Linked DNA regions of Homo sapiens. The protein of the gene in region 2 interacts with the protein of the main gene of each other region in a pairwise test. Each region holds a gene or a part of one and is shown on either strand. Other genes may lie near its edges.

The links.
Region 1: the proteins of NINL (region 2) and ZFHX3 interact in a two-hybrid assay, tested with the Homo sapiens proteins (one large-scale study listed by BioGRID).

Annotation. Positions count from the first base shown.
Region 1 is NC_000016.10:72,782,385-72,787,069, reverse strand, and holds the end of ZFHX3 (zinc finger homeobox protein 3), read left to right. Parts: 3' UTR 1-4,185; downstream 4,186-4,685.
Region 2 is NC_000020.11:25,474,032-25,479,414, reverse strand, and holds part of NINL (ninein-like protein), read left to right. Parts: intron 1-208; coding exon 209-492; intron 493-1,019; coding exon of another isoform or gene 1,020-1,220; intron 1,221-2,325; coding exon 2,326-3,372; intron 3,373-5,383. UniProt on the Homo sapiens protein: Involved in the microtubule organization in interphase cells. Overexpression induces the fragmentation of the Golgi, and causes lysosomes to disperse toward the cell periphery; it also interferes with mitotic spindle assembly.

The DNA of each region.
Region 1 (4,685 bases), on a different chromosome or scaffold from region 2:
CTAACCAAAAAACAAAAAAAAAAAAAAAAAGAAAAAAAAGAAAAAGCGTGGGTTGTTTTCCCATATACCTATCTATGCCGGTGATTTTACATTCTTGTCTTTTTCTTTTCTTTTAATATTAAAAAAAAAAAAAAAGCCCTAACCCTGTTACATTGTGTCCTTTTGAAGGTACTATTGGTCTGGGAAACAGAAGTCCGCAGGGCCTCCCTAATGTCTTTGGAGCTTAAACCCCTTGTATATTTGCCCCTTTTCAATAAACGCCCCACGCTGATAGCACAGAGGAGCCCGGCATGCACTGTATGGGAAAGCAGTCCACCTTGTTACAGTTTTAAATTTCTTGCTATCTTAGCATTCAGATACCAATGGCTTGCTAAAAGAAAAAAAGAAATGTAATGTCTTTTTATTCTCAGGTCAATCGCTCACACTTTGTTTTCAGAATCATTGTTTTATATATTATTGTTTTTTCAGTTTTTTTTTTTTTTTTTGTTCCAGAAAAGATTTTTTGTTTTGTTAACTTAAAAATGGGCAGAAAGTATTCAAGAAAAACAATGTGAACTGCTTTAGCTTTCTGGGGATTTTTAAGGATAGCTTTTCTGCTGAAGCCAATTTCAAGGGGAAAAGTTAAGCACTCCCACTTTCAAAAAAAAAAAAAAATAATAACCCACACACACAAAGAGTGTTGAGGACTTGTAGCTTAAAAAAAATAAGTTTTAAAAACTGACTTTCTGTATTTATGATAGATATGACCATTTTTGGTGTTGAGTAGATTGTTGCATTGGAAATGAACTGAAGCAGTATGGTAGATTTAAAAGGAAAAAAAAAAAAAAACCTTTTGTGTACATTTAGCTTTTTGTATGGTCCAGCTGACAGCTCCTCATTTGATGTTGTCTTGTTCATTCCTAGCAGATGATAGATTGCAATCCGTTGATTCGCCTAAGCTTTTCTCCCCTTGTCCCTTAATTCCACTTTCTCTTTCTTGTCCCTTAATTCCACTTTCTCTTTCCTTCTCCCACCTCCCGTCCTATAATCTCCCACTTAAGGTAGCTGCCTTCATTTCTTAGAGGGAGCTGCAGAATTATTTTATAAAACTAAAGAAAGAATTTCAAGGGATTCTAGGGGTCATTAGGATCCTCACAGATTATTTTTGGTTGGGGAGTTGAAACTTTTTAAAGGCATATAATTCTAGTTACCTGTGTCTGTTAGCTTTGTGCATTTATTTTTTATTTATCCTTCTTTTGGCTTTTTTTTCTTTGTACCCCTTCTTTTCCTCCTTGTTTGGTAGGAGCTTCAAATATTCTTTTTTTTTCTATACTAAAGGATTTGTTTCCATTTGTGTAATTGGCTGTGTACTTTTCTTTTCTAAAAAAAGTTTTTGGTTAGGGATTTGGTTTTTGGTTTTGTGTTTGTTTTTTCTTTCCTCTCTCAGAAAAAAAAATTTCATGCTTTAAATAAAATCCAAAGACACACCCTTTCACTGCTGATGCAGAAAAAAGGGAAAGGGTTCTTGTTACTTGAGAATTTGTTTCTGATTTAAACAAACAAGACTTAGTTTAATAAAAGAAAGAGAAAAACAAAAGATTCCCAGGTTGTTATGTGCTTCTTCTGCAAGCAGAGAGGCAAATGTTAATGACAATTCCATATACCAAAAGACACATTTTTTACTTCAAAGTTTTGTCCTTGTGTTAGGCAGTCTGAGCAGCGAGTGATCCAGAGCGCAGCCAACAAAGCAGCAGATAGCAGTGTACAGAAAGCAAAAAAGGAACTGTATGTGAGGCACTTGTTTCTGTTAATATCCATATTCCTGTTAACACACACCCTTTCTCATGTAAAAAGAAAAATAAATAAATGGTCTGAACTTTGAAAACTTTGTGCTGCTAAAACATAGATTTTGGAGACAAATAAATAGATGCTTTGCTGTTTCACTTTCATAGCTAAACATCAACAGAAACCATCTCCCCTTGCCCCCAAAGTGTGAAATCCTTCTTCCCTTCGTTTTCTTCCTTATGTTTCAAAAGGGAACTTTGAAGACTGTGAATACAGGTTCCATTGGTCACCTTTCGGGCTTCTTTCCCCAGTGCTGAAGCCACTCATCGACTTTGCAAAAGACTGGAGCATTCCAAGATCTGAAAATGGATTTTTTTTCTTTTTTTCTTTTTTAGCCGGGACTATTTTATTTTTATGAATTTGTTTTTAGTTTAATGAAATAGTAGATCCTGAAATGTTGTACATATTTCTAACTAGGCTGATGCACAGTGCAAATTCCTTTTTTAATTGTTTTTTTTAAGTAGAAATACTAAAGAAAGAATACCATCTAACTATTCATACCAGTATCCAGTTGTAGCATAAGGTGTCAAAAGCAAGTACGCAAAACATTTACTGTTTTAACAAGCTATTTCCTTTTAACAAGAAATCTTGTATTTCTTCCTGTGTTTGAGATGAACATTTTTAAATTTTAAAGTTGTACAGTTTTTTGTTTTCCATTATTTTATCTTGTTTGTAACTCTATGAAATATATATATATATATTTTTTGCCATTTAACTGTTGTATGTTACTCTGTGTCTGTACCATATAGAAAAAAAATTGTTTTTGTTTTTGGTTCTCTATGTGATATCAGTTAACAATGTAACACTAGCTTTACCTGTCAAATTCTGCTAGGTCTTCTCTGAAAACGTTGTTTTTAAAAATGATATTGCTTGGTAATAGTGCAATTTCTATCCTTTTCCCTCCCCCCTCAACTTTTAAGTTCTTTTCTTTATAATTTTGCTGCCCCCTCCCTGATGGTTTGGGTTTTTGTTTTTGTTTTTGTTTTTTTTTTTCATGGAGCTACTATGCCATCCTCCCTCTGTGAGGCAGAGTGACTGTCAGTGTTTTGTTATGCCATGCCTTGAGCTGTGGGTGTTTGGCGACAATAAGGTGGTTGAATAGATTGGCTGAGCACACTTCCACCCACCTAGTGTTCTCAGAGGGGTTATGTGATTGTTTCAACCTGGAGTGGGTTGCACCCTTAATGCTTTCCTCTGCAACTAAACCGCCCACATATATGTTCATTGAAAAAAGTAAGAATAATTCTCAGCACTAACCCAGAAGTAGCAAAGCAGTCAGTGATGGTGAACATTAGAGGTCAAACATGAGTTAGATGTTTGTGGGCTGACAGCCATCGTGGCTATGACCAGTACTATTTACAAAGCATGAATTCACTACAATGCTCAACTGTTTGTTTAGCTTTATCTCACTTGGGGAATTTATTCCTGTCTGCTGCATTGTAGGTAGCTGGGTAGGATATATTTCCACTTGCTTTTTAAATTAGTTCTTCACCTCCATTGACACTCGTTTTTTGGTTTTCTCCCTATAGTGTGGGTTGGTGCTAGACACCAGTCTGACCCACAGAATGGGAGTTATTTCATCCATCTTTCCTCCATCCTTCCAAAAACCACATATCTACACAAGGAAAAATTTAATACATCTAGGAATTTTTTTTTTAATTACAAGCTATTTAAAGAGATGAATGTGGCCAAAGTTTTACACAATTGAAAATAAAGTAAAACAGACGGCATGTGTTTAAACCTGAGTTTATCAGGCATGGCAGGAAGTTGCAGGAGAGAGAGGCAGTGACCCAAGCCAGTGCACTTGATGTTCATGGACATATATTTTTTTTAAATAATAAATTAAAACATTTTAAATAGAAGCATAAATTGAGTTGTTTGTTGGCGCTGAGATACTGCCCACTGTGAAACAAAGCTTTGACTAGTTTTTTGTTTGTTTACTTTCTTCAGGGGGGAGGGGGGCAAGTTTGGGTAGGAAAGAAAGCATAAATGAACGTGACCCTGAGGTGAAGAGGTATATGAACAGCCTTTGCAATGTACAAAAAGAAAAAAAAACAAAAAACAACAAAAAAAATAGAGCAAGTGAAACCAAAAATGATGTTCTTGGTGTTTTTCTATAATGTAGTCTTGTTAGCTTTTTTGTTACTGTAACAATGCTGATCTCGAACTGTACCAAAATACATGGAGACTAACAAACAGAACCACATGGAACTTTCAAACTGAAAAAAAAATTTGTCACAAAAACTTTGTTGTCATAGTTAAGTTGATTGTAGATGGTAATTGAATATACTCCTTTGAAAATATTTCATCAAGTATGTTTCCTGCTCATTGTGATACATTAAAAAAAAAATATGAGCAAAAGCTCCTGTCTCTGTTACCACATTTGTGCACATGCATGTGTGTGTGCAGGAGAGAGAGGCTGATGGCTGGCAAAGTATAAATGTGAATACCTTGAGGTTGTGTGTGCAGGGAGTACTTATCCCAAGGTACAAAAGGATGTACACGAGCCCTTTAGTGTTTCTAAAGACGCTTGTATTTCCCATCTCCTGGGGCTCATGAATGTCAGAAGTTTGGGCCATGATGCCGTCTGCGTTTCTTCATTGGGAGGGGTGAGTCTGATATCTTGGACGATATTTGGCCCTAGAGTGCCCTAATAGCAACTAGATTTTTAATTCAAATATTTATATGAAAGTTTTTGATGCTTGACACAATTGCAGGCAAAAAAGTTTTACTGATTGATAGCCATGAGAAAGGTAGGTTCAACTTTTTTGAAATGGGAATTGGATCTAGTGTTTATGACAGAAAGATATGAACGGTAAGTTGAACTAATGGATAACTGACTACATTTACCTGTCCTAGCA
Region 2 (5,383 bases):
GGGGATAGGTGACTCACACCTCACTAGGCCCTGGGGAGCACCACCAACATTCATGTCACTGTCCCCTTCTGCACACCCTGGCACCTCGGCAGGCCAGGATGCCGGTCTTTGCACGTTGTGCCAGGCAGCTTCGTGTTTCTGTGTTACGTCAGCAGCAAGATCATTCTTAGGGTCTCCTGGTCCACGGGGCTCATGTTTCTCGTTTTAGGTAAATTACTACGAAAGGGAAATTGCGGCACTGAAAAGGAACTTTGAGAAGGAGAGGAAGGACATGGAGCAGGCTCGCAGGCGCGAGGTCAGCGTGCTGGAGGGTCAGAAGGCCGACCTGGAGGAGCTCCACGAGAAGTCTCAGGAGGTCATCTGGGGCCTGCAGGAGCAGCTGCAGGACACAGCCCGCGGCCCCGAGCCTGAGCAGATGGGCCTGGCACCCTGCTGCACCCAGGCACTGTGTGGCCTGGCCCTGCGGCATCACAGCCACCTGCAGCAGATCAGGTCCAGCCAGCTTCTTTTGAGATTTCAAGTCTGGGGTTTCTTGCCAAGAACCAAAATTTGAAATTAGACTTAGGAAACAACTCAGAATTGCTGTGCCTCCCGACTGGGTGGTTTTCCTCTGGGCAGATGGGTGAGTGCCAAAAGAACAGGTCCTGGCATGAGGATTCTGGCTCTGAATTTAAAATATACATTGGATCATGGGCCATGAAGCTGTTCACTGTGTAGAAACAGCCCAGTGTTCTGTACCCTCTGCCTCAGCCGTGCCCGGCAGCAACATTGCCTCCATCGCTCAGAGACACCCGCTTCTCCAGGGCCAGGCAGGGTAGCATGTGGGGAGATGGAGAAAGGCCTGAAGCCCTGAACAATGGGAAAGATGGCCAGCTGGGGTTAGTGAGGTTCCCAAAAAGGCTCAAGTGTGCAAGCGAGAGAGAAGGCTTACAGAAAGCCTGTGCTGGTGTTTTATGTGTTCTGGTGTGAGGTACATGTGAAGTGACCACGTCTGTTCTTGTTGGGGGCATCTGAGGTAGGAGAGGAAGTGCCTGGTCATCGCAGACAGGCTGCTGCTCAGCTGGCACCCACTGTCCTGTGGAGAGCATTGGCCCCGGCTTAGAAGAGGACGGGCCCTCCCACCACACTGGCCAGGCCACCCCCAGCCTGACAGAAAGTCATCTTTCCGGCCGGATGCGGTGGCTCACACCTGTAATCAGCACTTTGGGAGGCCAAGGCGGGTAAATCACTTGAGCTCAGGAGTTCGAGACCAGCCTGGCCAACATGGTGAAACCCTGTCTCTACTAAAAACACAAAAAATTAGCTGAGCATGGTAGCAGGCGCCTGTAATCCCAGCTACTCGGGAAGCTGAGGCAGGAGAATCACTTGAATTCAGGAGGCGGAGGTTGCAGTGAGCCGAGATCTCGCCATTGCACTCCAGCCTGAGCCACAAAGTGAGACTCGTCTAAAAAAAAAAAAAAGTGAGACTCGTCTCAAAAAAAAAAAAAAGTCGTCTGTCCATCCTGTGCCTCCCCAGGCTTTCAGCTATTTCCCCTTAAAGCCAAGAGCGTGTGGTAAGAGATTGGGTCAGAGTCCCTGCAGACCCCAGTGGGAACAGAGGGGCAGGCACAAGCAGCCCCTCTCCTCTCAGCATCCAGGCCCTTGTGCACCTGGCCCCCACCCGGAGCTGTCTCTAGCAGCCTGCTCCTGGGGAGCTGCTGTCCCCGCTCTGCAGGGCTCCCGATCTGCCAATGCTTGGAGGTGGAGGCCCTCCAACCACTTCCTTGCTCCCCTTGCCCTGGCCAGGCATGGACCACATACCCCTTCTGGTGCTGTGGTCTTGCCAGCTCTCACTTCACTTCCACTGGACTCTCCTGCGGGCCACCAGAGGTCCCAAGGCCCAGCAGCTTCAGGGAATTAGGGGACAGTTTTGGCTCTGGGTCTCCAGCGCTATCGTGTAGAACCCACTGCAGTGTGGGCCACGTCGTATGTCTGCCCTGTCCAGTTGGGAGCCTTGAGGGCTTGGAACGTGGCCTGCACGGCCGAGGGGCTGCAACCAGGTCCTGCATGGTGGCGGCCATCTTCCATGTGAACACTCCACATGGAAAGGGTTCGTGCTTGGGCTTCCATGTGCAGAACCTCGCTCCGTGGGGCGGATCCTCGTCTGGACTCTGAAGTAGGGCCCAGGGTATAGGTTGAAGCCAGGGCTGAGGGAGGCGAGGAGGGATAAAGAAAGCCAACCACAGAGAGGAGGTCGCAGCCGTTGCAACAGCTGGGCAGACTTCAAACCCGAGAGAGGGGCTGGGGGCGGCAGGGCTGTGGTGTGTGACGGTTCTACTTCCACAGGAGAGAGGCTGAGGCGGAGCTGAGTGGAGAGCTGTCGGGGCTGGGAGCCCTGCCCGCTCGCAGAGACCTGACCTTGGAGCTGGAGGAGCCGCCGCAGGGACCCCTGCCACGCGGGAGCCAGAGGTCGGAGCAGCTGGAGCTGGAGAGGGCACTGAAGCTGCAGCCCTGTGCGAGCGAGAAGCGCGCCCAGATGTGCGTATCGTTGGCCCTCGAGGAGGAGGAGTTGGAGCTTGCCCGCGGGAAGCGAGTGGACGGGCCCTCCCTGGAAGCAGAGATGCAGGCCCTGCCGAAAGATGGGCTGGTGGCAGGAAGTGGCCAGGAGGGCACACGTGGCCTCCTACCACTGCGTCCGGGCTGTGGGGAGCGGCCACTGGCCTGGCTGGCCCCAGGTGATGGCAGAGAGTCTGAGGAGGCGGCAGGAGCCGGGCCTCGCCGCAGGCAAGCCCAGGACACAGAAGCTACGCAGAGCCCGGCCCCCGCCCCTGCCCCGGCATCCCACGGCCCCTCAGAGAGGTGGTCACGCATGCAGCCCTGTGGAGTGGATGGGGATATTGTCCCAAAGGAGCCAGAGCCTTTCGGCGCGAGCGCAGCGGGGCTGGAGCAGCCTGGAGCCCGGGAGCTGCCTCTGCTGGGAACAGAGAGAGACGCCTCGCAAACCCAGCCACGGATGTGGGAGCCACCCCTGAGGCCGGCCGCTTCGTGCAGGGGACAGGCTGAGAGGCTACAGGCCATTCAGGAAGAGCGAGCACGAAGCTGGAGCAGGGGCACCCAGGAGCAGGCCTCGGAGCAGCAGGCCCGGGCCGAGGGCGCCCTGGAGCCTGGGTGTCACAAGCACAGTGTGGAGGTTGCCAGGAGAGGGTCCTTGCCATCCCACCTCCAGCTCGCAGACCCGCAGGGTTCCTGGCAGGAGCAGCTTGCTGCCCCAGAAGAGGGGGAGACCAAAATAGCGCTGGAGAGAGAGAAGGATGACATGGAAACCAAACTTCTACATCTGGAAGACGTCGTCCGGGCTCTGGAGAAACATGTAGATTTGAGAGAGAACGACAGGTTTGCCTTCTACTCATTCTTAAAACTAAACACTTCAAACTAAAAATGCAGAACTAACCCACTGACCCCTGTTGCTAATGGTGCTATGTGGCCCTTCCTGCCGACAAGCTCGCAGCCCCTGATGGGGGCTGTGTAGCCCTTCAGCCTGAGTAGGGGTTGTGAGCCCAGCCCCGTCCCGGAATGCCACGGTCATCTGGTGCTCTACCACTGGGCAGAGGGAGGGCAGGACTGCCTTTCGGGGTCCTGAACCCACCTTCCGGGTTCAAGATATTCTTGTGCATCAGCCTCCCAAGTAGCTGGGATTACAGGCACCTGCCACCACGCCTGACTAATTTTTGTATTTTTAGTAGAGACGGGGTTTCACCATGTTAGCCAGGCTGTCCTCAAAGGTGATCTGCCCGCCTTGGCCTCACAAAGTGCTGGGATTACAGGCGTGAGCCACTGCGCCCGGCCCTCGCTTCCAAAGATTTTTCATTGTTGTTCCCAGAAGAGGCTGTATACCCATTAAACAATAACTTTTGCTAGTATTTTGTTGAGGATTTTAGCATCAATTTTTGCATCATAAGGGATTGGTCTGCAGTTTTCTTTTCTGGACTGTAGTGTCCTTGTCTGGCTTTGGTATCAAGTAATGCCTCATAGAATGAGTTTGGAAGTGTTCCCTTCTCTTCAATTCTTGGAAGAGTTTGAGAAGAGGTGGTGGAAGTTCTTTTTTAAGTGGTAGAATTCACCAGTGAAGCCATCAGCTCCTGGGCTTTGTTAGGAGGTTTTTTTGTTTTTTGTTTTTTGTTTTTTTTGAGACAGAGTCTCGCTGTGTGGCCCAGGCTGGAGTGCAGTGGTGCTGTCTGGGCTCACTGCAACCTCTGCCTCCCAGGTTCAAGCGATTCTCCTGCCTCAGCCTCCTGAGTAGCTGGGATTACAGGCGTGCACCACCAGGAATCAGGAATTTAAAACCTCGTAACAACTAGGGCACGGTGGTTCATGCCTGTAATCTCAGCACTTTGGGAGGCCAAGGTGGGTGGATCACCTGAGGTCAGGAGTTCAAGACCAGCCTGGCCAGCGTGGTGAAACCCCATCTCTACTAAAAATACAAAAATTAGTGTGGTGGCGTGCGCCTGTAATCCCAGCTACTCGGGAGGCTAAGGCAGGAGAATCGCTTGAACCCAGGAGGTGGAAGTTGCAGTGAGTTTTGAGATCGCGCCACTGCACTTCAGCCTGGGCAACAAGAGCGAAACTCTGTCTCCAAAAAAAAAAAATACAAAAATTAGCCGGGCATGGTGGCATGCGCTTGTAGTCCCAGCTACTTGGGAGGCTGAGGCAGGAGAATCGCTTGAACCTGAGAGGCAGAGGTTTCAGTGAGCCGAGATCACACCACTCACTGCACTCCAGCCTGGGTGACAGAGCAAGATTCCATCTCAAAAAAAAAAAAAGTTCCTTTAGTGAAACTCTGTTTAGAGTAAATTTCCTGTTTTTGCTTATCTGAAAAGTATCTTAAATGTTCCTTCATTTTTGTAAGACAGTATTCTTAGGAACGCACATCTAGCCATTAAATGGCCGCCTCTCCACCCTTGGAATGTCTGCTGTCCGTGTCAGAGACCCGGTTGCTGACACTGCATGGTTGGCCCTTGGTCCGTCTGTTCTTCCTTCGTGTGCATTTCCACGGACTTGGTGGCTTAACAAGGCACAAAAGTGCGATGTTTTAGTTTTAGAGGTTGGAAGAGGAAAGGGTCTCCTTGGGCTAGGAATGAGGTGCTGGCAGGGCTGCAGGGCCATCCAGAGGCCCCGAGGGGAGCTCCCTGCCTCACCTTCTCCAGTGGCCTTGACTTGAGGCGTCCTTCCATCCTGGAAGCCAGCCCTGGATGGCCGAGTCCTCCTCATGTCACCTTACTCCAACACTGACTCTTCTGCCTCCACTTTCTACCTCTAAGGACACTTGTGATTACGTTGGGTTCCTCTGGAGAATCCAGAATAATCTACAGTCAGAGAACGAGCAGCCTTCATTCCCCCTGCTGTG